6 separate regions of the Homo sapiens genome follow, and regions 2, 3, 4, 5 and 6 are each linked to region 1. Evidence: fine-mapped expression QTL. A gene starts in region 1. Each other region holds a variant in brackets. All regions are shown on one strand. Distances are between the middles of the regions.

The links. PIP is the estimated chance that this variant, and not a neighbour inherited with it, causes the effect. A credible set is the group of variants that fine-mapping cannot tell apart.
Region 2: its variant is the best candidate, but not a certain one, in a credible set for the expression of CHST2 in whole blood (INTERVAL, PIP 0.89).
Region 3: its variant is the best candidate, but not a certain one, in a credible set for the expression of CHST2 in whole blood (TOPMed, PIP 0.56).
Region 4: its variant is the best candidate, but not a certain one, in a credible set for the expression of CHST2 in blood mononuclear cells (TOPMed, PIP 0.62).
Region 5: its variant is the best candidate, but not a certain one, in a credible set for the expression of CHST2 in whole blood (TOPMed, PIP 0.74).
Region 6: its variant is the best candidate, but not a certain one, in a credible set for the expression of CHST2 in whole blood (INTERVAL, PIP 0.66).

What each region holds. Positions count from the first base shown.
Region 1 is chr3:143,117,698-143,123,009 of GRCh38, forward strand. CHST2 (carbohydrate sulfotransferase 2) reads left to right here and starts at 2,074. Exons shown (of 2, transcript NM_004267.5): 1 at 2,074-2,844; 2 at 2,947-5,312. The coding sequence starts at 3,120. The coding sequence ends at 4,712. RefSeq lists enhancers at 1,130-1,631, 1,307-1,436, 1,632-2,131, 2,417-2,466, 2,790-3,431 and 1 more and silencers at 1,897-2,186, 2,677-2,726, 2,757-2,806, 2,857-2,936, 2,997-3,196 and 1 more.
Region 2 is chr3:143,603,937-143,609,248 of GRCh38, forward strand. The region is part of intron 6 of SLC9A9 (solute carrier family 9 member A9); the gene reads right to left. Among named protein-coding and RNA genes, the nearest start is that of SLC9A9, 240 kb to the right of the region's middle. The variant T/TAGAG (reference allele first, on the strand shown) is at 3,059.
Region 3 is chr3:143,214,065-143,219,376 of GRCh38, forward strand. No RefSeq gene overlaps it. Among named protein-coding and RNA genes, the nearest start is that of CHST2, 97 kb to the left of the region's middle. The variant A/G (reference allele first, on the strand shown) is at 3,103.
Region 4 is chr3:143,376,497-143,381,808 of GRCh38, forward strand. All of the region lies in intron 13 of SLC9A9 (solute carrier family 9 member A9), which reads right to left. Among named protein-coding and RNA genes, the nearest start is that of SLC9A9-AS1, 37 kb to the left of the region's middle. The variant C/A (reference allele first, on the strand shown) is at 3,084.
Region 5 is chr3:143,239,684-143,244,995 of GRCh38, forward strand. No RefSeq gene overlaps it. Among named protein-coding and RNA genes, the nearest start is that of SLC9A9-AS1, 100 kb to the right of the region's middle. The variant A/G (reference allele first, on the strand shown) is at 2,698.
Region 6 is chr3:143,597,734-143,603,045 of GRCh38, forward strand. All of the region lies in intron 6 of SLC9A9 (solute carrier family 9 member A9), which reads right to left. Among named protein-coding and RNA genes, the nearest start is that of SLC9A9, 250 kb to the right of the region's middle. The variant A/G (reference allele first, on the strand shown) is at 2,720.

The DNA of each region.
Region 1 (5,312 bases):
CATGACACCATGCAAAATGGGAAAAATTTGCAAGCAAGGAGAGGGTGGAGATGCCAGAACCCGTAAATTTATGCCAGCTGAGCACTGTGGGGGCACCTGGCAAATGGATTTACTATTTTGCCAACACCAGTAAAGTGTTACAAAATTGCAAACGGAATTATTTCTATGCAAACAATTGTTTTTAAAAAGGGTCCCTACATCGACTAATGCAATTCAGTTTTTTTCTGGGTAAGCACAAAGCCAGAAACTAAATGAAAAATATTAGAAATTATTTTTCTTGGAATCATGTTGAATATTAAAATTGAGATTTACTTTCCTCCCCAATTCCCTCTCTCTCCCATCAGTCTTTTCATGCACCAATGTCATTTTAGTTTTCGTGGTAAAAGAGGTGGTGAAAAAGGGGCAGGGGCATTTGAGAGAGTAGGCGAAGGGAGGCTGGGGATTCCAGAAAAGGAAAAGATGGGGAGTCGCTCAATTAAACTCTACCACCTTCATCTGTTAACAGGGATTCTTGCCTGTCTCGACCCACTTCCAGAGGCAATGCCATATTATTTGAGAAAGCTGGATATAAAATTTGAGCTCTGCTGTCCTTGTCCCAATCCCCCTCCCCAGGAGAAAAAATAAGCTGAACTGTACTCGTGACATTATGGGTTTTTCTGGAAAACAAGGATAAATAAGTTTTTTGAACATTTTTCTCCCCTGAAACTAAATCCGTAAGAGAGTTAAAAACCCGTGGAAAGCGAGTTAAGTCACTTTTCAAGTCTTTGTACTCAGGGGATTCTGTAAGACTCATGGAAGAATAATGGCGCAAACAGCAATATTTTAATGTTAGAACGGTCCTCTGAAAAGTCTGCCCGAAACGCTACAAAGATAATTGTGCAGTAACTTCTAAAAACTCTACTGGGACAGGAGGCAACAAAACTCCGGATCAGCGAGAGCTCTGTTTATCCGAGGGTGCTGAGCCTCAGGCCCCACGGAGATTCCCTTTTCGGCACTTGGAGGCCTGAACTCAGGTCTAACCTTTCGTGTGCGCGCTCTGATACTCAACCACCGTTCAGTCTCCGGAGGCTGTTACAACTGTCCCCATTCTACAGATGAAGTTGAGGCTACAGCTTAGTGTTCTTGGGGAGGGAGGGAGTTGGGGGGAGAGAGAGACGCTTTTCCTCATAACCTTAAACAAAAGTACTTAAACCTAAAGCAACTGAAAAATGATTTTCTTTCAACAACGGTGTTTCCTTTGGGGTCAAGTTCTTTGATCTCATCTACAAAACCAAGAAGCGGGACAAGTATTTTTCTGCAAATTAGAACGGGGCGTTCCCCTCCCCCATCACCCCAATTCCAGAGGACGTCAATCACAGTGGACGCAGCACCGCGAGCGGAAATGCGGAGAGCATCGGGGCTCCGCATGTGGGGCACAATGAAACAAGAGCAGCCCCGGCCAGAGGTCCAGTAAAGCGGAAAGACGGTCCCGCCCGCACACCCCTCCGGAAAACTGAAGCGTCTCCTCTGACCCCCAAGGTCAGAAAGATTTATTACTTCCTTCGAGAGGGCGCAGCCACAGACCCACTAGAGAGGGCGGGCAGGGTGTCGGAAGCCAGAGAACGGCGCTCCGCGTCCTCCCACCGCTCCAGGGCGCAGAGGTGTCCTCAGTGCCCGGAGAGGTTGGCAGTGTCGGCCCCGAGGGAAGCGTGGAGCGGACGGCCGACAGGGGATTTCTGCCCAAACTTCATCACCAACTCTTTCTGAGAGCAAAAACATGGGGCCGAGTCCGGCAGCTGCACGCAGAATCCAACTCTCTGGCAGCTCTCGGCACCGACGAGCTCCAGATCCCGCGTTCGCATCCCGGCGCTTTGCGCGCAGAGCTAAGCCTTCGGACCCGTGGACTGCAGCCCCCGCGCGTCGCGGTAAAGCGGGTCGCGTCTCCAGCCCCCGAGGCGCAGCGACGGTGGGAGCCGGCTCGGCGTTGGGGGCGGGGGCGGGGCCGGCGAAGGGGGAGGGCTGCGCGGCGGAGGGGAGGAGCCGCGGCGACAGACGGCGGCGCGCACCAACCGGGCGCCGGCTGGCAGGAGCCGCGCAGAGGCTGGTCCGAGCGCGTTGCGGGCGCCCGGCGTAAGGGGAGTCGGGTAGCAGCATCCTCCTGGGCGCCGCTTTCGCGCGGCGGCGGCGGCTGCGGCGGGGTCTTTCTTTGCTTAAATACCTCGTTGGCCAGAAGCGCTGGTACCGGGGGCGGGTTGGGTCGGGTCGGGCAGTGCTGCACACCTGGGTTTCCTTGCCTAGAGCTGTGTGTTCGGGGTCCTTTGGTCCAGTCGGAGGCTGCGGAGCGGCGGGGGTTGCCTGCGCTGTCCGCCCGGGCATCCTCCCGGTGATGGAAGCAGCCGCCGCCGCCGCTGCGGGGTCGCGCTGTGCCCCATCCACCGCTGCCAGAGAGGTGGGAAAATTCGCCGCACGGAGGCCGAAAGCGAGAGGGGCTGCGCCGCTATGCCGGGAGCTGAGTCCCATATAAGCCGCCCCCAGCCATCGCCCCCAGCCGGCTTCGTTCCCCTGAGCGAGACAGGAAGCTGCGGTCCCGAGAAAGCGGAGGAGACGTCGCTGGAGCCGGGAGGCGCCGGGTTCGGCGGAGCGCGGAGCGGGGCTCTGGGCCGCGTGAAAGTTTTTCTTCCCGAGCCGCAGGGCGCCCGCTGCCCGGAAACTGCCCAGGGATAAGTCGGCCGACTCCCCAGACCCCTCGAAGGTGCGGGGACCCCCAGCGGAAGCGAGAGGGAGCGAAATCGAGGAACGAGTGACAGCCGGACAGTCCGCCGGGCGGTGATCCGGGGCCGCTCCCGGGCGCGCCCTCGGCTCCAGGTGAGCGGAGGAACCGGGCAGAACCGAGGGTGGGCGTTACTTAGGAGGAGGAGGCTGGGAGGGAGATTGGGGCGCATCCGCTCACTCCGCTTCCCCTCGCAGGTCCTACCCGGAGCCGCTGCCATGGGAGAGCCAGCCTTGGGCGCTGGGGACCAGCCGCCGCGCCCGCCTCGGAGTCGCGGCCCGAGTCCCGGCGCCAGCAGCCAGCCCGCTGCGTCCCCTTCCCGGGCTGCAGGGCTGCCTCCGCCGCGCCGCCGGCCCGGATTGTGCCTGTGATGAGCCGCAGCCCGCAGCGAGCTCTGCCCCCGGGCGCGCTCCCTCGGCTGCTCCAGGCTGCGCCTGCAGCCGCGCCGCGTGCCCTGCTCCCGCAGTGGCCCCGGCGCCCAGGACGCCGCTGGCCCGCGTCCCCTCTCGGAATGAAGGTGTTCCGTAGGAAGGCGCTGGTGTTGTGCGCGGGCTATGCACTGCTGCTGGTGCTCACTATGCTCAACCTCCTGGACTACAAGTGGCACAAGGAGCCGCTGCAGCAGTGCAACCCCGATGGGCCGCTGGGTGCCGCAGCGGGGGCAGCCGGAGGCAGCTGGGGGCGCCCAGGGCCGCCTCCGGCCGGGCCGCCCCGTGCTCATGCCCGTTTGGACCTCCGCACTCCTTACCGCCCTCCCGCTGCCGCCGTCGGGGCGGCTCCTGCAGCCGCGGCAGGGATGGCGGGGGTTGCGGCCCCTCCAGGCAATGGCACTCGGGGCACCGGGGGCGTCGGGGACAAGCGGCAGCTGGTGTACGTGTTCACCACGTGGCGCTCTGGCTCGTCGTTCTTCGGCGAGCTATTCAACCAGAATCCCGAGGTGTTCTTTCTCTACGAGCCAGTGTGGCATGTATGGCAAAAACTGTATCCGGGGGACGCCGTTTCCCTGCAGGGGGCAGCGCGGGACATGCTGAGCGCTCTTTACCGCTGCGACCTCTCTGTCTTCCAGTTGTATAGCCCCGCGGGCAGCGGGGGGCGCAACCTCACCACGCTGGGCATCTTCGGCGCAGCCACCAACAAGGTGGTGTGCTCGTCACCACTCTGCCCCGCCTACCGCAAGGAGGTCGTGGGGTTGGTGGACGACCGCGTGTGCAAGAAGTGCCCGCCACAGCGCCTGGCGCGTTTCGAGGAGGAGTGCCGCAAGTACCGCACACTAGTCATAAAGGGTGTGCGCGTCTTCGACGTGGCGGTCTTGGCGCCACTGCTGCGAGACCCGGCCCTGGACCTCAAGGTCATCCACTTGGTGCGTGATCCCCGCGCGGTGGCGAGTTCACGGATCCGCTCGCGCCACGGCCTCATCCGTGAGAGCCTACAGGTGGTGCGCAGCCGAGACCCGCGAGCTCACCGCATGCCCTTCTTGGAGGCCGCGGGCCACAAGCTTGGCGCCAAGAAGGAGGGCGTGGGCGGCCCCGCAGACTACCACGCTCTGGGCGCTATGGAGGTCATCTGCAATAGTATGGCTAAGACGCTGCAGACAGCCCTGCAGCCCCCTGACTGGCTGCAGGGCCACTACCTGGTGGTGCGGTACGAGGACCTGGTGGGAGACCCCGTCAAGACACTACGGAGAGTGTACGATTTTGTGGGACTGTTGGTGAGCCCCGAAATGGAGCAGTTTGCCCTGAACATGACCAGTGGCTCGGGCTCCTCCTCCAAGCCTTTCGTGGTATCTGCACGCAATGCCACGCAGGCCGCCAATGCCTGGCGGACCGCCCTCACCTTCCAGCAGATCAAACAGGTGGAGGAGTTTTGCTACCAGCCCATGGCCGTCCTGGGCTATGAGCGGGTCAACAGCCCTGAGGAGGTCAAAGACCTCAGCAAGACCCTGCTTCGGAAGCCCCGTCTCTAAAAGGGGTTCCCAGGAGACCTGATTCCCTGTGGTGATACCTATAAAGAGGATCGTAGTGTGTTTAAATAAACACAGTCCAGACTCAAACGGAGGAAGCCCACATATTCTATTATAGATATATAAATAATCACACACACACTTGCTGTCAATGTTTTGAGTCAGTGCATTTCAAGGAACAGCCACAAAATACACACCCCTAAGAAAAGGCAAGACTTGAACGTTCTGACCAGGTGCCCCTCTTCTTCTTTGCCTTCTCTTGTCCTCTTTCTCCTATTTCTTACCCTGTCCTCCACCTGCCTTCCATTTTGAAGTGGGATGTTAATGAAATCAAGTTCCAGTAACCCAAATCTTGTTTACAAAATATTCGTGGTATCTGTGAACATGTTAAGAGTAATTTGGATGTGGGGGTGGGGGTGGAGAAAGGGGAAGTGGTCCAGAAACAAAAAGCCCCATTGGGCATGATAAGCCGAGGAGGCATTCTTCTAAAGCAGACTTTTGTGTAAAAAGCAAAGGTTACATGTGAGTATTAATAAAGAAGATAATAAATAATATTCTTTTTAATATTTGCCTCCATTACTTTGGATTCACCTGTGTTACTTG
Region 2 (5,312 bases), 490 kb after region 1:
TTTTGTAAGACTATAATCAAGAACATTGTCTATGACGTCACTTCATGCTTTATTTCTCACAGAATTCGATAACAGAAAAAAACACATTGTTGATGACTTGAGTATTTTCTTTAACTGACCTGCAGAATCATAAAAACTGACGTGCTTTCCTTTTCACTCTGTTGCCAGGATGCTCTGAATAAAATTTAGTTCTAAATTAAGGTCTATTTTGTGCCAGATACACATTTTTTTTAAGAAAGTGATACAGTTTTTTACTTTTAGTTATCCTTTTTGAAATAAATATTCCTTAGCCCTGTAAGCCCACTCAAGTTCTTTATGGAAGTAATTAATTCAAGGTACTGTGAATTTGTTGATTCCCTGTTACATGCCAAGCAGGGTGCGAAGCTCTGGAAACACATAGATGAATAAGACAAGAAGTAAGGTTTTCTCTTATGGAGCTCAAAACCTAGTGATGAAGAGCTATGTGGAGAACCAAGCATAAAACTAGGTGACAGACACAGTCTTCATAGAGTAAATGTAGCAAGCTGGGAGTGCTAGTGAGAGAAGATGACTCCTGAGTTGGGATGGCAACCAGAACTGGGCCTGATGAAGAAGGAGAGGCTGGCATTAAGGCTCAGAGAAAATAATAGTTGTCTAGGATGTGGTGAAGAAGTTTAGTATGACTGAAGTGGGGTGGAGTGAAGGTGGAAGTATATAAAGTGCAAATCAAACACAATTAATATGCCTCCGAGTATGTGAGAACACAGTTTACATGGAAGAGATTGCAATACAGTAAAAGCTACTTTTTCCACATTAGGTACTGGCTAAATTATAAATAGCTAACCTACCAGAGAATAATAAAGCCATTTAATAACAGTTTACAGTACTCCCACTCAGCTGTGATATTGTTGAATTCTTGCAAAACAAGAAAGAAGCAATACTTTAGAACTGGAAACATGTCCAATTCTTATTCATTGCCCACAGATTCTGGCAAGTTTTCAATGAGGGCCCCTCCGGTTGAAACAAGTTAGAGACTGAATTCTGGAGGCTCTGCTTCTGCAGGAACCATTAAGCGTCACAAAGGGACAAATGCACCAACATGAAGCAGAAGTGAAAGCCCCTTTTCTGCTTGTCTAAACCACATGGAGCGCATTATGTTCATATTTACTACAAGTGGTCTCTATATTTTCTTTACAGGACTTTAGATTGTTGCCCCAAATAACAAATATACTTCCTTTGGAGCGCATCAAAAGAGCAGGGCCAACATCCTGATCTCAGTGTATTAAAGAAGTGCCTGAGTGCTCAAACATTCAGCAGCTAACCAGATTCATCAGCCCTTTACACATTTGGTAGGATTCTAATGGTGACTTCTTTGATGGTACACTATAACTTGTTCTAATCTTTAGAACAGAAGTTGCCAACTCAGGTGCCTGCAAGGCCACACCTGTGATGGAAAGGAACAACCTGTCTGTGGAACCCAGGAGAATGATGGGAACCCCAACACACCAAGCCAGCAGCTATTCCCACACACTGGCACAGGGCTGCAGTGTTGGAACATGAACTTTCTGGTTATTTTTGCTTGTTTGTTTAAGAGAAACTGAAAGTCTAAACCATTGTGTAAAATTTGCCAATTTTTAAATGTTGGCATCGCATATAAAAGATTTAAGCTGTGTGTGGACTAAACAAAGTACATCTGCAGATGAGATCTGGCCTGTGGACCACACATTTGTAACTTAAGCTTTAGACAATCATATTAGCAGATATTATCTCTGGCATATATTGAAGGAATTGTACAGAAACCACTTTTAAGGCCTCAAATTTGTTTTCGGTGACCTTATGACATCACTCAGTGCTGACAGGTGTATAGAACCGTGTTAAGCAAGTTATGCAACCTCAGAAAGCCATTAAAAGATGGTTCCAGATACAAGTACAAATAAGCTGATAGAGAAATCTCTCCTGCATTTGTGTATATAAATTATAACAATGTTTTAAACACATAGCTGAACTCAAATCCCCAGAGGTAAGAAACAAAGGGAAAACCCACAGTGAGAACGATAAGCTCTGCTCCATGCTATTTATAAAGAAAACCCTCACAAAAGATGTGTGGGTGCTGCTTTAACTGACCTGAAGAATCATATAAATTAATATCCTTCTCATTTCATTCTAACATTGTCTCACAAAAATATTTAAAAGATATACATAGGCTGGGCACGGTGGCTCAGGTCTGTAATCCTAGCACAGCACGTTGGGAGGCTGAGGTGGGTGGACCACCTGAGGTCAGGAGTTCGATACCAGCCTGGCCAACATGGCAAAACCCCTTCTCTACTAAAAATACAAAAATTAGCCAGGCATGGTGGCAGGCGCCTATAACCCCAGCTACTCAGGAGGCTGAGGCAGGAGAATTGCTGGAACCTGGGGGAACGAGATGGAGGTTGCAGTGAGCTGAGGTGGTGCCACTTCACTTCAGACTGGGCGAAAGAGTGAATCTCTCTCTCTCTCTCTCTCTCTCTCTCTCTCTCTCTATATATATATATATATATATATATGTATATAAAACCACTATGAAGGGAAGGCAGATAATTTAAAAACATTAAAAAGAAGAGCTAGTAGTGTAAAAAGATAGAAACAGAACAGCCTGAAAGATTTTCTAAAACAACTGCATTTAAATAATTAAAAATATCATTAAATTAAATATAAAATACAATGAAAGAATAGGACTCTAGACAATTTGAAAAAGGAAGAATTAAAATCTAGAGTGTAAACCATAGGCAATAAAATTGAAAACTCAGTTGGCACAGCTCAACCGAGAATTAGAACAGGATCTGAGGGAATCATCCAGAACACAGGTTAAAAAACAAAAAGATAGAAAGGTAAAATGTAAAAGAATGTTAATGGGCATGCAGAATAAATTAAAAAATAGTCCAACATATATCTGTTGCAGAAGAAAGAAGGTAGGTGAGAGAGGAACTATTCTAAGAAATTTTTTTTGTAGAACTGAAGAAACATATCAAATTCTGAGTGGAATAAGTAAAATAAACACTCAGATTTGCTGTAGTAAAACTGTACAAAATACAATACA[T/TAGAG]AGAAAGTAAAATATCAACCAGAGAGAAAAGACAGATTAGCTAAAAAATAGAATAACAATTACAGAGCATATTTTAAATCAATATCAAAAACAAAATAAATACAAAAAAATATAAAATATAATTACCTAATATCAACAAAGTTCTGAGGGAAAATATTTGTTAATTTTGAATTCTATATCCAGATAAACTATATTTCAAAAGTGAGGACAAAATAGATTTTTAAGCAAAAGAATAATAATTACTGCTAAATTACTACTACCGAGATAATTTACTAATCATATGCTTTTAGTAAGAGAATCACTAAAGGAAAAACTTCAGAAAGAATAAAACTGAACACAGAGGAAAGAGTAGGTGCATGAAGCATTGTTAAGCAAACAAACTGTTAAACATGTAGAGAAGCCAAAGTAACCACTAATTGTAAAATAATAATGATTACTGAATGGTTAAAAATAAGGTAGAACTAAAACACTAGCAAATTGATAGCATAAATAACGGAAGGGATGAAAATCATTAAAGCATTTTAATTTATACATAGTGTCCAGGATGATGCTAGGAATATTTGTTTATTTCAGAGCTTGTTAATTATGTATTCTATGTTAATTATGTAGGCTAAAATTTAAGGATAATGACTAAAATAATGGAAGAAACTAGAAAGAGTCACTCCATAGTAATAGAACAACAACAACAAAAGGGACATAGAGAATTCAATAATCAATCCAAACAAAATCAGGAAAGAGGAAAACAAGAACCCTAGAAAAAGCATTTACATTGAAAACACAAAATAAGGTATGAGATATATTTATATATACATATATAACAGATGTATATTTAATATATATAAATGTTTGGCATGTGATTTATATGTGTTTTAAATGTGTTATGTTTTATAGCACAAATATTTTTAACTTATATATGTATAATTTTCACAGGAGTACAAAGAGGTATATTCATATACAGAAGGATATTCACATGGCATTTTTGGAATACTGAAAAAATGACAACACCTCAAAGGTCTAGTAATAGAAAATGCGCAAATAAAGTGTAATATATAATGAAATATTAAACAACAGTTAACATGAATGAATTGTGTCTAGAATTACCAATATGGATAAATTGTAAAAGACATAATGGTGAAGAATAGCAAAAGCAAGTTGTAAAAGGATAACAGAGCAGACTCTTGACTGGCTACCTAAAAGTCATCAATAGCCTCCTTTTTTATTTTTCTGGTGATATTCTCTACTGAGGGTGCTGAAAAGTTAAAAGAATCAGCAACTTGCCCTTTCTTGCAGCAAGGGGTACATCAGTTCTAGCAAATAATATGCAGTGAACATCTGTGGGTGTTTTCCCCTTCCCAAAAAGAAAGATAAAACTTAACAAGAGCAAGGCTTTTGGCTGTTGGTCTTCCCTCTTTGTCCTCCCTGGAATGTGAACTTCTGAGGTTTAGTTTGCTAACTTGCAAGCAACAGGTGAAGAGTCACACACCAGGATAGTGAAGCAGGATGGATAGATGACATCAGCGGGCCAAGGACCACCACGGTGGGCTTTCCCTAGACTTCTTGTTATGCAGACAAACAATATTCTTAGTTCTTTAATATCCTGTGGAAGGACTTTTTTTCTGGTACTGGTAGCTAAATGCAATGTAATTGAAACATATAAGTACAGTATAATACCATTTATGTAAAATTTTAAAAATATAGAAATCTGTTATATATTGCTTATGGGTACAGACAGACATAACGCATATGAAAAACTGGTCAGGAAGGACCCACATTGAGGTTAAGATGTGGTTACCTGTGCAGAGAAGGGTGTTAGGGGAAGGGAAAGAATAGGGAGGAACAGGACTATGGCTGTTGCTATATTTTATTCTTTTAAAAAGAGTTCTAAAGTAATATCAATGCTGAAAAAGAATCTGAGTGATGAGTGCTAGTTTTTTTCTGTATATAGCTGAATTATTTTAAAACTTTTATCTAGAATAAAATAAATTTGAAATTACGTAAACTCCTTAGCTGTCTATGATGCGACACGGTTCGTTGTGGGTGGTGCTCTGTAATTCCCTTATCTGATCCATTTTTCTCACTCCAGTGAGTGAAAGCAGGGTTGAAGATGAGTCTATTCTCCATCAGACTGTGCTATGTATAGATCCACTGCAACCCTAGCAAATGACCTAAGAGAACAGATTCCTGGGAAGCTTTCATGTTGTGTCAGGGTAAGCAAATAACAGTTCTGGACACAGTGTTCCAAAAACATTAGATG
Region 3 (5,312 bases), 96 kb after region 1:
TTTGAGGAATTTTTGCTTCCATCTCTACTCTAGGTCTACAGTTCCTGAATTTATCCACTAGGCAACACTGTATAAGTCTCATTAAACTTTAAACTATGAGTGGCACCTAGTCGCTTTGGAATCCTTATACCAGGAGACCAGCAAGTAAGGAAAAAGAGTCACCATTTTTGCAGAGTTAATTTACCATAATACCCAGAAGGAAGGACTAGTGTTTCACAATGGGGCAGGAAAGAATATGTTTGGCACCCAAGAAATTGAGTTGACTCTTGTCTGGCTAATTTTGAGGGTAAGTGGTCAGGTGCAGCTTGATGGCCTAAAAAGAGCATGGTAACCAGGAATTTAGATCTGTCAGGAACAGGGAACTCAAGATTGGCAGCGTTGCTAGCTCATGGTGTGGGACATCTAGAATAGGAAGCTGAGGTATCAGTTGAAAGGCTGAGTATCAGTTTCTGCCAAGGTAACAGCCCCCCCAGTTTGCCCCAGACTGTCCTGGTTTTATGACTGAAAATCTTGCATCCCAGGAAACCTCTATGTTCTAGTTGCAGACTGGAGACCAGCTGCAGTGGTGGGATCTGTTAAGTTCGCCCCACTAACCTTTCCCTTGCAAGCTTTCCCAGGAAAAGAGACCAACTGGAATCCTGGAGGAGTTGCTTCTAAATGGGATAGACTTACAAATATGAAGGGAGTGGATTTGAATGGTACAAGGAGTGGAGTGTAGGGAATGCTGTAGTGCACCCAGATCCTTCCTTCCCTATCAAGGAACTCATTCCCCAGAAATGTTGCCTGCTTATGGCTCATAGATAAGTCCCTCTTCAAGAATTTCCCTCAGTCAAAGGGAAGCTACCTTGTCCAAGGTCATGATCTAGGGTAAAGCCTGATTTAGTAACTGGTCAATGCAGGGGTAGGAAAGCCTGGCCTATTGCTTCACCTTGGGCCACTTGGAGGGCCATCCCAACTTTATGATTCCCCACGGGATTGCCTATGGCCTTTCTTGCAATTGTATTTCATTTCAACTTCTTCCTCTGTCCTGTTTCTTTCACTCTCTTATGGGAATTGTTCCCAAGAACACTCCACAGTAAACCCCCTGCCTGCCATCTCCATCTCAGAGTTCGTTTCCTGGGAAAGCTAGTCTGCAACATGCCATTTCATCATCTTGTTGCACCTGGCTGAACCCTTTGCAATGGGTCACTGTATGCAACCACCATAGTTAACAGATGTGATATATAACAGAGACTCCCCGTGTCTCTGGTTATGATACACGGCCACTAATTTTTCCATAATTTTTTGGCTTACCGACAACTTTTTTTATGTTCACTATTTCCTGCCAACCCACATTAAGGAAAAAATGCATATATAGTTGCCTTATAATCTCCAGAACACATTAAAAACACTCAAAACAATACTTTGGTTTTATACTTGTAATAAATCAATACAGATTAAGCATAATTTATTATGTTCACATTTCTTTTCCATTACAATTGCCATTTTGAATAATTTATATTAGCATTTTTGTTTTGAGTGTTATTGAGAATTCATGGCCTTTCATGTACACACAAAAACTTATTTAACTATAAAGTGTGATATCAATCTGTGCTCAAATTATCATAAGTTCCCCAGTCAGAGTCTCTTCACACAGGTTCCATTTACTTTTAATACTGACCATAACACTCTTTAAAGCTTCCTTACTTATTCCAGACTCATCTGAATTTTCCTTTTCACAAAATATGGAATCTTCTACCCTCAAAGGATCCTGATTCTTCTTATAGACCAAGATTTGAGTGCTAGGAGTAATATCTTGAGTTGCTGATTGGCAGGATGCAGTTGCTGCTATTGGACCACTTTCAGAAATGACAACATTGGAGAAGATAAATTTGTGTTCTCAAATTGATGTTACCAATTTGACACTTCATGTTGTTTTACCTTCTTTACTCATGGTTCCATTGATCACTAAGACTTTGTATCATATTTACAGCCTTATTTAATTTTTATGATAATTCTCTGAGGTAAGCATTGTTATCTCATTTACAGATGAGGAAGACGAGGCCTATAAGTTTAAGTGACTTGTCTAAGGCCAGAGGAACAAGTGGCTGAGCAGAACTGAATCCTAGCTTTTCCAAGTCATACTTTCTTGTAGGACTATACTTTTATTCACAGGGCTGAAGTCCCAGAAGCCAGGTTTCCACTTCCAGACCCTGCCTCTCTGGCCAGAGTTGATTGAACTAAGAGTGGATACCTGACCCAAGCTGGACCAACTAGATTTTTTTCTTCCAAAAACTCGGAATTAAGAATATGACTAGTCAGCCTGGGCTGGTCTTTTGAAGAGATAGGATGGAGTCTTGGGAGTTGATATTGTTACCTTCTGCTCATACGTATATAGAGACGCTTCTAGGCTGGCCTGCAGAAAGAAAACAAGAAGCAGATTGCCAGATAGATCTCCTCTTTTTGGCTTCCATCCTTCCCTTATTCCACCTTCCTTTTGGCTCCTGAGATACTCCTATATCTTCCTAAATTTCTTTTTTTTTTCCATATTGAAGCCAATTTGAGTTACTTTTCGTTACTTACAACCAATGAGACTTAACCAAGACAGAGGTCCTCTTGTCTGGTCATGTTTGTGGTGCTCAAGTGTTGCTGCACAACCTTTTCTCCCCCTCTCCCTCCTCCCTTCCTTCATCATTTCTCCCTTCTTTCCTCCCCCTTTCCTCTTTTTATTTTTTTCTCCCAAGACTGCATTATAATTGTGCATTCAGATTACAGAGAATCCCTGTTCTAACCCAAAGCCATTTTCCTGCCAGGAATCCCAGAGCTACAAACTCTCAGCTTCAGAGGGAAAGTGAAACTGAAGAGTTTACCTCCCAGAATATAGCTTATAATCTGTTGTCTGAAGAAAATAAGCAAAGTCATTGTTCTTCCCTAAAGGCAGCCTCCTCTTAGTTAAGTAAGTATGTCTAGTTCTATTTACGTGAGCGTCTGCAGCTCCTTTCACTGAGAAGGAAATAACAAGCACCTAGAAGACAAGAGAAAACAAGACAGGATTGTGGCCTTTTACATGTGTTTCGTCATCCTTCTTCAAGAGTCTTTAATATAGAAGAAGAGAGATTTGAC[A/G]GTCCCTCCACCTGTTAGTGAAGAAGAGTTAAAATGCAGTAGGTTTGTTTAAAAGTATTTGATAAATTCCCACTCAATATCAATATTCTTGCTTGCTGTGGCAAAGGGAAAACAAACAAAAAGAACCTGGAAATAACCCAGATTTTTGGAAATAGGTGAATGGCTGGGCAAACTATGATACAGCTGCACTTTAGAAAGCTGAGCAGTTATTAAAAAGAATGATTTACAGCAACATGTATTATAGGAGGTGCTCTATCTGGGGCAAAGCCTGCTTGTTACACCTCCCCTCCTAGCTCCTCATAAGTCCACCCCTTTCAATGATTTTTCACTGGGTACATAGCTGCCAGGAAAAAAAGATTATACTTCCCAGTTTCCCTTGCAGCCAGGTATAGCCATGTGATCAGTTAATGAGATATGAGGGAAAGTGAGATGAGCAACTTCTCTGCTGTGTTTTTAAAAGGAGGTGGAGAGTGGGGTGGGATGCCCTTTCTTCCCCCTTTCCTCCTCCATCTTATTTCCTGGAACCTGGCTGTGATGGAAAACTAACTTAGGCCATGAGGATGAGGGGTACTGCTTGGAGAAGGTGAACAATAAAACAGAAAGAGCTTGGATTCTTCAATATATGGCACAGAGTTCCAGAAAGTCCCTGGACTTCTGTTAAGTCAGGCAGAAATAGACTCCTTTTTTAGAAAAAAAAAATTAATTTTAATTCTAATTTTATTTTTAGAAAAAATTTCTGTGTTGTTCATTTGAATCTCTGTTACCTGGAACCAAAGCCAGAGTCTAATTAATACCTTATCTAAGTAGAAATAGTAATTTAGTTGTGCAGTAATGTGTGTGGTATAGTATCTTTAAAAATATCTGTGAAACAAACAATCCACCTTGTACATATGCATATGTGCCCAGAAACATTGAAATGATCATGAAAATGGTGGGAAAGTATATGGCCAAGTTTCTAACTTGGATGCCCTTAGGGGTGGGGAGGGAGGAGGGTGTTCCTGTTTTTCTTTAACATCTTTTCTTCTTGTTGTTTGACTTGTTATAATAATAAAATCTCTTTTTAATTTACAGAAAAACATTATTTCAAGTCTTCTTGAAATAGGAGCAGCTAACATGAAATTGCTTATTTAAACCATGCAGTTGAAGGCTTTTGAGGCAGAGAAGCCCAGCATGTGCTGCTATGGTAGGGAGCTGCATCTGTCCTAGAGCTTCCTATCTGTGGGGTCGTTCTCTCAAACTTGCTTCTAGATAGAGGTCTTGCTGGCTCTTTTATGTGGTTGGGTAAGTGCTATTGGGGGAAGACTGATTATTTTGCATTTAAAAAGAAGAACTATTGTGTTTTTCACAAAATTGTCTCTAGATTTGCTTCCACTGTGGAGTGATTACGGGAAGAGGTGGACAGAATGAGTGAGGGGAATAATTAAGCTGCAGGAAGGCATCTTTCTAGTGATTCCCAACCAGCTGGCCACATGGCCCAGGCTCAGGGTGAGAAGCTCAGGGTGTGTCACACAGCCCTGCATTTACTGCCCATGATGAATACAACAACATCACCCACAGGGTGCAGAGACAGTTACATATTTGTTGATATGGCCTCAGTTGGAAATGAAAATTTGGAAATCATAGGCATCTTCCAGGTCAGTAAGCAGCAATAAAAGCTTTCAAATGCCTTTTCCAAGTTTTGTTAGAATTGTATGTGTGTTTGTGTGTGTGTGTGTGTGTGTGTGTGTGTGTGTGTAGAGAGAGAGAGGAAGAGTATATATCAGACTTTTAAAGTGTCAGACTCAGTTCATCTCTCCTAGATCCCAGAAAGGCCCAGAAAGGAAACACCTGGGTGCATTAATGGAGATTCTCTACAGATGCAAATTCCCCCACAAAAGGCAGTTTTGCAAGACCACTTCAGTCTGCTGGCAGCCATTTCAAAATATGTCAAAGAAATATGTTTTGGGGTAAAGTATTTTGATTTCTTTCAGTTCCCACTTTGAACTTAAAATAAGTTTCACGTATTAAATGCCAACCTGATAGCTTTGGAGAAATTTGGGTTAGAGGTTGTTAGATAGAGACAAAGGAATGGAAACACAGATTGAGATAAACAAAAAAAGAGCAGGTTTTTTTGTTTGTTTGTTTTTTTGTTTTTTTGAGATGGGGTCTTGCTCTGTTGCCCAGGCTGGAGTGCAGTGGCATGATCTTGGCTCACTGCAACCTCCACCTCC
Region 4 (5,312 bases), 260 kb after region 1:
TTAAATGTGATTATGTATATATACACATAGGTATATAATTGTTAATCACTTAATATATAAAAATGCTTATTAAAGTATAGCTGCCACCTTCCACTTCTTCTTCCTTATTATCATTCCTACTTTCTAGAACATGTACTTGCAGGAACTACCGGTAAGATAAAAATATAGAATTTAGAATTTAGTCCTATGCAGTAAAAAGTTAGTAGGGGGAGGACATAATTTTGAATCTAAAAGCCATAAGTAAGTATAACCAAAATAAATTCAATGTTGGCCAAGGGAAAACCCAAGATATTTTCTCTGAAATGTTTATTTTATTTTTCTCAAAATACCATTAGTTACAATGACATTGGAATGACATAACATTACAAAAGCTCTCACCTGGGTCACATCAAATTTTGAGACTCGTATTCTATTTCTGAAATATTCGTAGAAGTGTAGTGTGAAATTTACACTCTATGAGACTAACTCCAACAGTACAGGAGCAGTAAATGCAGAAAGTATGGAAAAATGTTGATAACTGTTAAGTTTGGGGGATGGGTATGTTAAGATTCATTATTCTCTTATCTTTGTGTTTATTAGGAACATTTGAAAATATTCACAAAGAAAAATTTTATTTAATGACCATGATGACCCCACTATCTGCTAAATTAATCTCTTCCCTTCTTGAACCTACTTATATTTCCAACTCTTGCAACTCTGGAAGGCCCTGAATAAGAACTATCAATTGTGCAAAAGAACAAATACTTTTATTATTCACCCATGGCCTCTTCCAGGCTTCAAAGGTATTCCAGGTTATGGTTTTCTGGGAGTTAGCAAACAAGTCTTCATTCGCTTTACACCTTTCATATTTTTACAGATACTTTGTTGTGCCCCTTCGTAGTTCTAGTCTTTCTGATGGAAAAATCCTAATCCTTTTAATCCCTGCTGCTCTGGCAGCAGGTCCCTCTGTCAGTTATTGAAGTTGCCCTTCTTCAGACCTTTCTCAGCTCTGCTGACTTTCATGTGCTGCAGTGACCAGAACGGATCCACCCAGGTTACACACAAGAATAAAGGACAACCAAAACCAGAATTTCAATGAAGGGACTTTCAGAAACAAAAGAAAATTGGAAGGTAACGTCGAGAAACCATTAAGTAACAAGCATAGTGTTAGAAAATGAAATTGTATGAAAAAAGATGAAAATTATCCTCATCACAACAGCTGGCAGGGTGGAATGGGGAGAAATTTATTTTAATGGGCTAATTCTATTACTTCCAAGCTCCAAACCAAACCATCAAGGGTGTCTATCACATTAGAAAAAAACTCAAACCTAACACCATGGCCAATGGTCTGGCCCCTGCCCCTGTCTGTTTCTCCCACTTTTTCTCCATCCGCTCCCACCTTGCTTACTCAGCTCCAGCCATGCTGGCCTTCCTGCTGCTTTTGTGCACACCATAACCCACTGTGACTCCAATGCCTCCATACTTGCTGTAGCCTCTGCCAGACTACCTCTCCTCAACCCCTTCTCACATGGATTGTTTCCTCCACACATCATCTGGCCTCTGATCAAATGCCACTTCTACCCTGACCAAGTAGCCTCCTCGCCTGTTCTCTATCCTCTGACCTGCTTTACTGTGATCATGCTTTGAATGTATAGAATGCAGTTTACCTTTTTCTTATCAGTGTCCCCCAATAGAGTATATACTCTGGGAGGAAGAGAGCTTTGAATTGGTAACTCCTGAATCCTCACATCTACGTTAGTGCCGTAGGAGTGGGTACCAAGAATTACTTGTATGAATAAATGAATGAATACATGCACGCATACCAGTTAAGAGTGGAAGCTCTGGAACCAAACTGTCTGGGTTCAAATTCCACCTCTCCCTTCTGTGTGTTCTTGGGCAAGTTTTGTCTCTGTGTACAATTTCCTTATTTGTAAAATGCAGATAATTATAGTACCCACTCAGGGTTATCTTGGAAATTAAGTGAGCAAACGCATATAAGGTGCTCAGAGCAGTGTTAAGAATAATAGCTAGTGCCCAACGAATATGGGAGTGAGTACGATCAAATGGCAAAAGGGAAAAAGAGAAGCAATACTGGCAGCCTTTCTTGAGTAGCAGGAGTTTTCTATTAAAGGACTGAAGGCAAGTGTGGTGCTCCAGTGACTCTCACCTACTCTGAAAAGGTGTGCTTTCAAGTACAAGGAATCAATTACAAGGGAAACTTCCTGTTGTGTGGGAGGCTACCTGAGGGTTTTGTTTTTCACATTTAAGAGGCATAAAATTCACAACTGCAGTATCTTCCAGTTCTCAAATTAGCACGTTTGCATGAAGTATGCATCCAGAGTGTGATATCTGCATATGGAACATGCTCTCTAAAGCTTTTGTGCCTGGTACAAATAATTGTGTAACACCATTCACATTCTAAAGGTATTGTATGGCAAAAAGGAAAGTTGTGACATTACTAGTTAGCCACAGCTACAAGTTCACATTCCCAAAAGTTATTTTACTTTCCACAGCAGAGAACAAAGAAGAAATTTAAAAACATATTAATATATATAATTTTAAATATATATATATAGTTTATTCTTGATTTTGAGAGTGTATAATCAGTAACAGCTATAACTACCTGCAAAATTTTTAGCCTTTGGTAAGTAAGAAGGGTTTCTGTGTATGTGTTAAGGCTGCCCATTACAAAGATTAACCTATTTGTTAATGCAAACCCAGTTTAATAAATGCAAATCAAGGGGAAACATACAATCCTCCTAAGAATTGGGGTTATGTTACATAATCCAACAGAGCAAGAGATGTTGATAATAAGACAGGTGTTGCCAGGCAAAATGAGAGCAGAGAGGTTCTTGACAGTTTGGGAAGTACCAAAAAACGGTCCAGGTTCAGTGGCAGCTGTGAGGACACTGCAGCTTGTTACCTCCCATCAGAGCCCACTGTTTCCTGTACTTGATACTGAAGATAAGCATTATCCCAATGTGTGGAGAAAACCTCTTTCTGAAACGTAAGTTCTTTGGTAATCGAACATTATCATGAATAAGAACACTTACAGTATACTTCTTAAAAATGAAATCATTTGTAGGTAGCAGCAGTTCAGGAGG[C/A]GCCATGTCAATGATAACGCTACTTACTTAACATTTAGATAGTGCTGTATGTGTCCTCTACAGGAGGCCCCAAGTGAGAAATGTCTTTAAAAACATAGTGATGTTTCGTGTCACTTGAGGAGAGGGTATTATTTTTCCTTCTAATGATGTGAATTTAATATATTACCAATTATTATTTCTTTATTTCCCCTTTGGCCATCAGAAAGCTTACTTATGGTTTGACTACAGTAAGTCTATAAGGCCTTATGATCTGCTTATCCATGATTCTTTATACCCCTCTGGTTTTGACTATCTGCTCTTATTAATATTTTTTACTGATTTTTAAAATTTCTATAAAAATATGTTACTATTATATGTGGTGGTTTAAGCTGCCTCCAATCATCCATAAAATGAGATGGGTTTAGCTTAATTAAGTTGGGTCATTTTCATAAACCCAATTTCCCTTGATTATCATAAATAACATCCTGGAGAGGCAGACGTTATTATCATTTACATTTTATAGAGAGGGAAACTGAGACCCAAAGGTGTAAACACCTTGCCCAAGACCCAAATATCACAGAATTTTCACTGTTCTATGTTATGCTATCCTATTTCTCTAATAAAAAAGTAACTTTAATTGCTATAATATCTTCAGGTAAGGGTTATTACTGATTTAACAATGATGAACTTTGTTTTAAAGTGTCACATGAATGAGATAAAATAAAATACATTTAAATTGGAAAGGATTTAGGCTAGTAGGAAATTTTTACCAATAACAGTATATGTGATTGTAGAATATTAGGCAGTTAGAAGAAGACAGAGAATTTTATTTGATGAATTTTATAATTGTGTCTTTTCTTCTTTTAAAGAAAAAGGTATACAAGAAGGACAAAATTTAGATAAAAGTTTTCTTGAAGGTAGGAGAATGAATTATTTGACCTACACAAGATGAAAATGCTTTTTAAAAATCAGCCACCACCAGACATTACTGACTATTCATTATAGCCCACCAGTGTAAGGAGATGGGCTTTGATCTCCTTTCTAAGGTCACCAGGCTGGCTCTAATCCCAGTGCTTTGGGCACCCCTGCTGTGCTCCATCCTGCAGTTAGGTGTGTTTCCTGGACAATGGAGTCTGTGGAAACTGCCTGGCCTTGGAACACATGTGACAAAAAACCTCAAAGTACATGAGAGCCAGGATCATCACCAACTTAATTTCCCAGCCTTTTCCACAGAGCACAGGCTCCTTTCTTTTTCACATCTGTGTGTGCCAGGAAAGCAGTGTCTTGCCCAGGAAAACTCACCAGTTGTGCCTCATTGATGGTGTTATTGGAAAAACAAGCATGAAATAAAAGAGAGGGATTCCCTTAGAATACAAATACGCTCATAACACAATTCATTAAGCAATATCACTTATTTATGATATTCTCCTATTATATCTATGTCTGCCTACTTCTAATTTCAGCAAAAAGGTGTAAAATTTCCCTACATTTTCTTATTTGTGACAAGTACTGAGTTTAAAATGGTAGTGCAAAACTGACATTGATAGATTCTACTTTGACGTTAGGTTCAAATTCAGTTTGGAGAATGCATTTCCCCTACTTGAGGTGATATGGTTTGGCTGTGTTCCACTCAAACCTCATCTTGAATTCTAACTCCCACAATTCCCATGTGTTGTGGGAGGAACCTGGTGGGAGGTAGTTGAATTATGGGGATGGGTCTTTCCCATGCTGTTCTTGTGACAGTGAATGGGTCTCACTAGATCTGATGGTTTTAAAAACAGTTTCCCTGCACAAGCTCTCTCTTTGACTGCCACCATCCATGTAAGATGTGACTTGCTCTTCCTTGCCTCCTGCCCTGATTGTGACGCCTCCCCAGCCATGTGGAACTGTAAGTCCATTAAACCTTTTTCCTGTATAAATTACCCAGTCTTGGGTATGTCTTCATCAGCATTATGAAAATGAACTAATATATGAGGGAAGAACTCATTGTTCTAAACAATTACCCCAAAGGATTTTCAGGTCTCTGTAGATAATTGTTGCTCAATTAAGTCAAAGGATGGATCACCTAGACAGTTTTTTGGGCCTTAGACCTGATAAATGAGAAGCTATCCAGGAGAAATAAGTCAATTTGTTGTTTGTGCAACATGCATTGGACATACTTTGTGTAAATTTCACTGAGTTGGCTAGCTAGCAAGTTGCTGGGTAGGGATTTGAACTATGAAGTGCCTCATTCCAAGAGCCATCATATAC
Region 5 (5,312 bases), 120 kb after region 1:
GGTGCAGTGGCTCACGCCTGTAATCCCAGCACTTTGGGAGGCTGAGGCAGGCGGATCACTTGAGGTCAGGAGTTCAAGACCAACCTGGTCAACATGGTGAAACCCTATCTCTACTAAAAATACAAAAAAAAAAAAAAAAAATTAGCCAGGCGTGATGGCAGGTGCCTGTAATCTCACCTACTTGGGAGGCTGAGGCAGGAGAATCACTTGAACCCTGGAGGTGGAGGTTGCCGTAAACCGAGATCGCGCTACTGCACTACAGCCTGGGCAACAAGAGTGAAACTCCATCTCACAGGAAAAAAAAAAAAAAAGAGTTTAAGTCCACCTTCTCAGCTACTTGTCTTAGGAGTACTGAAGACTCTCAAAGAATAAATGCCAAGATGCATTGGTATATCAACCTTGACTCTAGTCTTTCTCACTGTATATTATTGTTTAGTTTTTTTTTTTTTTCCCTAGACGGAGTCTTACTCTGTCACCAGGCTGGAGTGCAATGGTGTGATCTCGGCTCACTGCAACCTCCGCCTCCCGGGTTAAAGTGATTCTCCTGCCTCAGCCTCCCGAGTAGCTGGCGCTACAGGGACGTGCCACCATGCCCAGCTAATTTTTGTATTTTTAGTAGAGACAGGGTTTCAACATGTTGGCCAGGATGCTGTCGACCTCTTGACCTTGTGATCCACCCGCCTCGGCCTCCCAAAGTGTTGGGATTACAGGTGTGAGCCACTGCACCTGGCCTATTGTTTAGTTTTTATGTGCTAGTTTTCATTGTCAAGTGGCTTTGCAATAGTTAATACCATCTCCTCCACTTCAGTTTTATTATTATTTCCTGTTTCTCTGTAACAAAAAAGAAATTTTGACAACACACAAATACATCTGTAGATCTGGGGTACTCTTTGAAAACTTGTGGGTTTTTACACTTTTTAACAGATTAAGACTTCTGAATCTTCAATTTACCCTGAACATAATTCAGTTCTGAGTATCTCTGGATTAGCTTACTTTTCAAAGTATTTATCTTCAGCGCACTGAGGGAGCCTTATATTCTCTACCTAGTTTGTTGCATTTCCAGAATTTTTGTACCTTGTTCCTTTAAGTAACAGAATTAAAGCAATGGGGAGGGGGCTAAAGGTAGCATTTATTAGGAGGACTTGCCCCTCTCTTCCATTAACTTCTGCTGACTGCTTTTTCATTCAGTTATTATAGGTCAAAAGTTAGTTTTAGATAATGGTGAATGCCTCTTGTTTCTTTAAAGGATCTCTTAAGTACCACGAAGGTCATGCTCATTCCTTAAGTTAGTAAACTTGGCAAGGGAGGGTACTAGATGCATCCAAGGGCATATAGCAAATGAGCATCCAAGTCTGGGAAGAGTGAACATGTTGACGTGTTGTCACTGCAAGATTTTGCTAATTGTACCCAGATGGTCTGATCTTTTATACTTTTTGTGACAAACTTCCTCTATCAGTCATTGTCCTCCTTTATGACTGGATAGAGTTGTTGTTGTTTTTTTTTTTTCTCTCATAAGCACGGAAATTTGACCTCCTTTAAAGCTGACTCAAGATCCTTTAATTCATAAACTTGTACTCCTTACATACCCAAGACACGGTAAATGGGACTCACAGCTCCTCAGACTTTTTTCTCAGGTGACACCAGCCTGAAGATGAATCATAAATGCCGATTTGGACTCAATGTCCCGAGATCCCCAACATCTTCTCCTAGTAGTTCTCAACTCCTCTGCACACTTGAAAGAAAATTCCGGAACTTAGGCCCAAAATCCAAAGATGTGTGTTTAATTGGTTTGGGGTGAAGCCCAGGCCTGGTTATTTTAGAAAACTTCCTTGAATGATTTTCATCTGTGGCCAGGGTTAAGCATATTTTTGGCTATCTTGCCAATTTGGTGCAAAACCACTTCATCCTGAAAAGCAGGCGATGTAGAGCCATGGCCAAACAGGTCAGAACTTTGCTCTATTTTTAATTTAAGCCACATTTATTTTACACTGCAGATGCCAAAGCAGAATCCTTGGCTTATCCTTGGGAATTACAGACTGATGATATAACTCCTCTGTAAGGAGACAGACGACGCAAACAGAATCACTGAAAAGTCTTCTAAAGCAAGGGGTTGGGTGGAATTTGAACAGAACAAGCTGGCATGCCTTGGGAGTGAGTAAAATTATGCTTCTTGAACCTGTCAGAAGTCCTTGAAATAAAGCAGTAGATAAAAGGAACTAATGGTTATAATTTATTTAGTCTTTCCTGAGGCCCTTGGTTGTTCAAAAGAAGGGGACTCGGTAACCATGGAAGTAACTGGAGAGCTACTAGGGATTAAGGGCTGATTAGGAGATGGGATGCCTTGAGTCAGGAACACATGGCCATTTTCAATGTGGTCAGGTTCGGTGGGGACCCACACAATAAACTGATCAACAAACTGATTTTTAAGATTCTTTTCTTGTTTTTATTATCCATTTTCAGAGCATCCTTTGAGAAACAAGGTGACTCAAGCACCGGGGTTATCAGCTCTCTGACCTCCTTCTGCCCACCTGTCTCAGCTCATATCCTTCCTTTCACCCCTGCTTGTCCATGACAGAGCAGCAAGGTCAAATGACTGTTTGTCTGGCTTAACCCAGACCTTGATTCACATTCTGAGAATGTAAGCTCTTCTAAAGTGCTCTTCATAGCACGCTGTTCTTTATAAAAAGAACCATGGAC[A/G]TTGTAGGAACTGTTTTGAAAGGCTGATGGGTTGTGGTAATCCACTTAATGACAGGCAGACAAAGCAAGAACTGTAACCTGAAGAGCTGCTTAGAAATTACGTGTCTCTCCTCCCACCTCCAGGGCCTGCTACATTGGCCTGGAGACCTCATGTTGCCAGGCTGACCCAGGCCCCATGTATCTTAGGTCTTCTGGAAGATTTTGCTTCCCCAGCATCTGCTTCTACTTCTTTTAATCCTAGCACTGTTGTTTTGGCAAACTCCTCATCCCCCAACTCTCAATCCATGGAATTCAAGCGGGAGCTGATACTACTTCCTCTTCCCCTCAACATATATATCTGAGCTCCAAGGGTGCGCACGTTCCTTGGCCTGGCTAAAGCATGCTACATTCCTTTGGCTAAGTGACTGGTCTAGGGATGGTTACCTGTTTCAAAATGGTTCAGTGAACTTTGGCCTACAGATCTTGTTGGAACTATTGAGAAAGAGACTCTCTCTGTGCTAAGCTGGTGATCAGGGACCACCCTGAGGCGGATTGCTTCTTGACAAAGAGAAAGAGAACAGAGGAAAGCAAAGAGATGGAGCAAGACAATTCTTGACATCTTTTAAATACCTGGATCCAGTCATATTTACCAGATATGCTTACCGGATTTTTCTGTTATGTGAGTCAACAAATCTCTCACTCCACCTTTTTCTTGTTAAGCTTGATGAAGCTGTGTTTCTGTCACTCATAGGATCTTTCAATAAGAGGCCCCTAGTATATACCTTCTTGCACACCTTAGTGTCCTGTCCCATTGGAAACAGTTTTCCCTGTCTCCTTAGGGGCAGGCTAAGGGCAGGGGTACACGTTGAGATAATCTGAAAAATGAGTCTATGCCTCTGAACCGGCAGGAGAGGTATAGGGTGGGGTGGAGGGTTGTCTCAGGTGAAAGGTTGATTTTGACAGCAGTTTCCTGGAGCCGATGGTTCTCCCTTTTTGATAACCTCAACAGAGTAATTGTGAGGATGCAGGGAAAGAGGGGATTGGGAATGAATCCTTACGAGCATCTTCTAAGTGTCAGATACTGTGTCAGGTGCTTAACATAAGGTATCTCACTCAGTTCTTACAACAATCTTGTGTATATCATTGTCCCATTTTCACAGGTCAGAAAAACATATCAATAACAATAGCTACTATTCACTGAATGCTATGCTCCAACATTATTTATAATTCTACTTTATCCATTACAATCATAATAATCTGCAAGATATACTATAGATATATTTTAAAATATAGATTATTATCTATATTTTATAGGTGATGAAACTAATGTTCAGAAGAGTTAGGTAAGTTGTTCATGGCCATGCGGCCAAAGAGGACAAGTCTGTATTCAAAGAGACCTCATTTGGAAGCCAAGCTTGATATGAAACAGATTTTGACTTACAGTCTTGTGACAGGTGTGGCTGGAGAGATATTCAGGCTAATGAGGGCCTCTCAGCATGCCTGACTTCGGAACGGGAGGCACAGTCAACAGGACTGTCATGTGTGGCGTTGACCCTCAGTGCCACCTTGGACCTCGGTATGCTGACCACCAGCTTCAGTTAGGACCTTTGGTCAGGTTACTTGCCAAACAAGATCTAAAGGAATTCTCTACCCAGAACTCTATAAAAACAAGAAGAAGAAATAATTAAGAACACCGTGTAGAACAACACAGCTTTCATTCCAGTTTATATATTGTAAAATAAAGCCACACAGATCCTAAACATGCTAGGTGCTCTTTATATTTGAGAATCTGGTGTCAATTACTCATTAAAATGTCAAGTTGGCCGGGATTGGGAGGTGTCTGTTGGGCCCTATTAGTATTCTCTCCTTACATCGTGCCAGTCCTGGGAATTGTGTTGGTCCATGTGAATGTCCTGTGGTGACCTGAGTGCCACACTAACCCAGGCCAGCCCACTTCACATGTGTATCTTCTTCCTGAGGCAGAGTTGGTATCTAAATTACAAAGACTTCTCTTGTCTTTGAGAATGCAGCCACTCAGAGCTCAGCCTTTAAGGATTAGCAACTGTATTTCAGTTGTGTGATTTACTCCTGTTCCCACCCATGGCTGTGACACTTGTGGTGGGCTGAATAATGGCTCCCAAAGATAGCCACATCTAAATCCCTGGAGCCTGTGAATATGTTACCTTACACACTGAAAGGCACTTTGCGAGTGTGATTAAGGCTATTGAGATGGGACTATTAGGCTGAGCATCCAGGTGGGTCCAATGTAACCACGGAGTCCGTATAGAGCAGGGATCAGGTGATCCCAGTTAGTAGCAGGAAACGTGATGACGGACGCAAGAGGTTGGAATGATGCGAGGAAAAGATTCTGCGCCAAGGAATGCAGCTAGCCTCCAGAAGCAGATAAAGGCAAGGAAACAGACTCTTCCCTCAGATCCTCGGGAAGGAACCAGCTTGCCTACACCTGGGCTTTAGGTCAGTGAGACTGATTTTGGACTTCTGACTCCTAGCACTGTAAGGTAATAAACTTGTGTTGTTTAAGTACACAGCACACAAGGTAATAAACTTGTGTTGTTTAAGTACACAACACAAGTTTATTACCTTGTAGTAATTTGTTACAGTAGCCATAGGAAACT
Region 6 (5,312 bases), 480 kb after region 1:
ATTAAAGCTTACTTTTAAACTATTTTACACTTACTGGCAGGCAGGAGCCAAGTGGTTCCTATAGTCTCAAATGTAGAGATTTATCAAAGCTGTAAGGAAGGTATGGCGCTAAAAGGTGCAGAAAACTGGCTTCAATTAACATTCTAATCATCACTGTCAACGCCATTATGCAACTCTGTGTAGAGTGGCATATTCGGCACTGTGGGGTTAAACATAAGCAGTGGGCGCTGCCTTCCCTAGAATCGCAGTATCGAGAGCTGTTGTCAACAGCTCAATTCGGGGCCTGCAGACAAAAGGTTCTGTACCCACTTACCAATTCCCTGAGCTCTCCAGTCCCTGGTAAATTGCTTTTGAACACATTCTCAACTTTTATCTTTTTTTTTTTAAATGAAAATGTTAGTGGGTAAAATCCAGTATAAGGGACACATTATTCTGAGAGCATAGCTTTCCCTACCGATACCAGCGTCATTTCCACTGCTCTGTAATAAGTAGCTGCAGCTGTTGCCATGGCGATTTTCATTTTTAAAAACTGTATCCATACAAAGACAGGCAACGCAGCTGTTTCCATGAAGCATCACGAAATAAGCCCAGATGTAATGGCACTCCTGTCTTTTTCCAGAATTAAGGAGATGTGTCTAAAAGTCCAGGTAGAGCCAAAGGATGGGGCTGTAGCTGTGCCTTGAGAGGAGCCTCCTGCTTTCACTTGAAGCTCAGGACACTAATGGAGGGTAAATTAGTGGCGCTAGTGAGCGTTCAATTTCTACCCAGTTTTCTCAGGCAGATTCTTTGTACCAGTGAATCACTATTTACACTGTGATTATAACTTCCTCCAATAGCCTCCTTTGAAAAAGACACCGTCTTCCTCCAAATCCGCACATGCTACCCCGGAACATTACAAGAACAAGCACTGCTGATGGGGCTCAGTACTTGTTTTTCTGAAGTCCCGTGGCCTCCTACCTACATGTTATTAAAATGCTGCAAGCAAGCAAGTCAACACAAGTTTTTAAAATCATTCTCCACTTTCCAGTTAGAGGAAGCGTGCTGCCTGCTGCTGCCCTTGTCCTTTAATATGGAGGGAGTTTGGTTTTCTCTGTGTGTGGTCTGGTAGGCACCAATAAGGACAAAAAGATACCTGTCAAGCTCACCATTTCCTGAACAATGGTATTATCTTTCTCAGGGAACAGGAATCTTTTGTTTGTTTCTATTTTTGTTTTGAGGCCATTGATTTGCTAGCCAAGCCAGATGCTGAAAATTATGTAAGTAGAACCCACAGGTCGCCTCAATCCCTCATTCTAAACAAGATTCAAATGAGTTACCCCCTCACTGACCTGGAGAGCTATTTCTTCTGTCACATAGGTGCAGTGCACCAGATGGGACTGTGGCAGAAGAATAGTTAGGTGAAGAAAGCCTACCGTGTGCCTCATGGGGAAAGGATTTTAAAAGAAATTATATTTCCTGTCCATAGTCCTCCATCTCATATAACTATTTAACTCGTAAAAAACATAATTATGTTTCTGAATTTCTTTATATTTTGCCAATCAGTTACAGCTATTTTGTTGTTACTAAGAGCATTGAATTATAAACAGTATAAAACGCCAAATGCTCAGGAATCTAATAATAAAAGGACTTTTCCTGGAAAGCATAAGTAGTTCTTTTCTTCTATAAGGAGAGCCTCTGTTTGCAAAGAAATACGGCTGTGCTTAACATCTGAGTAGTCAGCAATCTTAGTGGTGGTGGTTGCTATTAATTGTAGTTGAGATGTGACCTACACATAATCCACAGAAGCCGTGGGGCTTTATGAGCACAACAATTGCCTGTGTTTGATTCTACCTTGCCAGGGATACTCTCCAAGATCCTGCAAAATATCATTTCTCTCCTTTGCACTATTGAGATGCAAATGGCGCTACTGGCTGACCACCGACAAGCTTTATGAGCAATAAGGAATCCAAATTCCTTCAAGGCATCCTTAAATATTAAAATGTCATACATAAACAAAATATGTAATGAACTTCAAATAATTACAACAAACAAAAATCTTATGCGTCCCTCAAGACCTGTAAGAAATCAAAGGGTCTCAGAATATTTCATCTGTCTTATCATCGAAGTAAGATATCAATGCCTCTTTCCATTTAAGAAAAATCCCAGAAACCAAATCAAAACAAAAAATTCTGGAGAATGCACTTGTCCAACATAAAGCAACTAAACAGTCACTGTCCCGATTATTGTTCTCTGGCGTTTTACCTACCAGCCCGGTACTGCTTCCAGATGTTTTGCTACCTTTTTTTTTTAATTAAAAAATTTTTTTTATAATTATACTTTAAGTTCTGGGATATATGTGCAGAATGTGCAGGTTTGTTACATAGGCATACATGTGACATGGTGGTTTGCTGCACCCATCAACCCATCATCTACATTAGGTATTTCTCCAAATGCTATTCCTCCCCTAGCCTCCAACCCCTCAACAGGCCCCGGTGTGTGATGTTCCCCTCCCTGTATCCATGTGTTCTCTTTGTTCAACTCCCACCTATGAGTGAGAACATGCGGTGTTTGGTTTTCCGTTCCTGTGTTAGTTTATTGAGAATGATGGTTTCCCATCAACGATAGATTAGATAAAGAAAATGTGGCACATATACACCATGGAATACTATACAGCCATAAGAAAGGATGTTTTGCTATCTTAAAGAGAAGCAAGAACTGAAAGAAATTCCCCTGGATGGAC[A/G]AGAATTCTATAAGTGTGTGAAAAATACAACAAGTAGAACTCATTAATTTATCAGATTTTAATATTAACACATGGGTAAGTTGAGCTTTAAAGCTAATAACTCTACTATTTCTAAATATCAATGATCTGCAGAGATTGGTGACATTCTTATTCCCTACATAGAATTGAGATCACCCTCCCAAAACGCAATAAATCAGAGAGGTTGATCAGCATGAAAATGTCTATGTTGGTCAGCAACCATGGCTAAGGAAAGAATTAGGAAATTATTTCATAGCTATCATGAGGAGCTAAAATAATGAAATATAGGAGATATAGACTGTTAAATTAACCATAAGGCTGAAAACATTTTCTCCACAAATGTTTTCAACTACTTCAAATCCTCTTTTTCACTGTGCCCAAGGCTAAGTGAGAGGAGACCCACTGGGCTGCCTCTCTCACTCCTGGCAGGGCTTGCTGGAGATCAGAAGAATAATGCAGGGAGGAAGTTCTGTGTGATTTATTTCAACTGAGCATAACAAAGTGGTGAATGGGGATGTAAGCGGAAATGTTGCAAGTGTATTTGTGTAAGCACACATTTCATTTCTCTTAGACATGGGAAGTTGAGGGGAGAAACAGTCTCAATAATGACAGTGGGGGGTTATTTTTCAAAATGTCTTGTCTTTGATGTAATTCTGATATTAATGTTTCTATTGAGATTCATGTTTATTCATTCAATGAATATTTACTGAGTACCTCCTGACAGCCTGGCCCTATTGTAGGTGCTGGAGATATGCAAGTGAATATGACATGGAAGGACTCAGGGAGATAGGCAATAAATATACAAATTAACAATCAGTCTTTTGAGATGGGAAATCATTTGTAACCCTCCCCACCCCCAAATTTAAAATAATTCAGAATTTAGAATTACAAAGGGACTTCAACAATATCTCATCTGCATTTCTTCATATTCCCATGAAATAAATTTTGTGGTAAGCTTCATTTTGTAGAATTTGGAATTGAAATTCAGTCAAGTTGAATGACTTGGCGAAATCCATTTCAACAGTCAATGGGGGAGCCAGCGTTTCTATTCTGCAGAACCTCTGCTCTTTCACTGTATCACACACCACCTCCACAGATTGTTTTTAACATTTGTGCTTCTATGTGCAGTTTCAAAATCTGGTATTAAACCACTTTCCAAATTCATGTATTTAACCCTCCCACCTCTGGTGCCAACTCAGCGCTGCAGATTTCAAATAAATCATTGCTTTCAAATTAAGTTTACTATAAAGAATCTATTGGAAGGTAATTTGATAAGTGGCTACATCAGATGAAATGTGAACATGACTTTGCATGATCACTGCCCCTTCTATAGGCTTTTCTGGAGGAAACACCTTCACTGGTCTCGAGACACTCTCACTTTGCTACATGGCATTGTGCCATGCCCCCCACTGTTCCAACATCCCCCCTCTACCCTCACTGTTCCTGCAGTACCCCTTGCTGCCATCATCACTGCACTCACACTCCCCTGGCTCAGACTTGCTCTGCAGTTCCTGGAGAAATTCTACTTTGTTGCCTTTCCAGCCTATATACAGCAGTATTCCCATGTCCTTTTTTGTTTAAATTCTTAGCCAATGTCTTTCTCCAAGTTTTAAAAACTAATTGTTCCTACAGGTTTTATTTGTCCTTAATATTATCATGTAAGAAATTAACTTTGGTGTTGTGTCATTTATTGTCTCAAATCAGCCAAGAGTTAGAGGCGAGCAGGGCTGTTTGACCACATTGTTTTGGCATGTCCAGGGCTTGTTCACTATGGGACCAGCAGCACGTAGCCCAGTCTGGAGCAAAGAGCCTCCTTCCTGTGCATGCTCCTGACATCAGCTAAGGTTCTGGCTCAGGCCCAAGAACTAGGTCAACACATTTCAAGATCTCAACGTGAGATCTGGGTGAACGTCCACCTCTTAAGATGTTCTCTCCAGTGAGGAAGGCCAGCTGGAACAGGTCAATTGCTCGAAACATTCACTAGCTGCCTTTACAAGGACTTAGTTAATTTTAACAATTCTTTTACCCTCTAGACATTTTTAATGCTTAAATATCTTAATTTAACTGTTTAATAATAGTTATTGTACTTTAATAAATATTTCATTTATTTTAAATGTTTTAATAATTTCTTTTAAAAGACTAGGAAATATAGACACAAATGGGGCAATTCTATAGTCTAAAATTATAGAGGTTAACTCTGTTTTTCCTGGTTGAATATGGTATCTGATGCTTAGCTCTGTATTATTGGGTAAGTTGCTGAAGCTACCCGTACAATAGGGATAATGATAGCACTTGACTTCCCCAAAGAAACCCCTTTAACCTTGGAAAACGATTCCCTTCATTCAGTTTCAACTCTGTCCCTGAGGGCCATTTAAGATGCAGCCCTCCTAAAAATATAGCATTTGAAATGGCATTTCCAAGATTTGTGGATAAGAATGCTGATGACCACATGTGAGCATAATGGCGCTTTAAAGCCAAGATTTCCTCTTCCATAGTCTATGCACAGAAATCTGCAGCCTCAAGCTCTTAAATTCTTGAACACATTCAGGTTTTAAGGAAACTGTTGACTTTATCA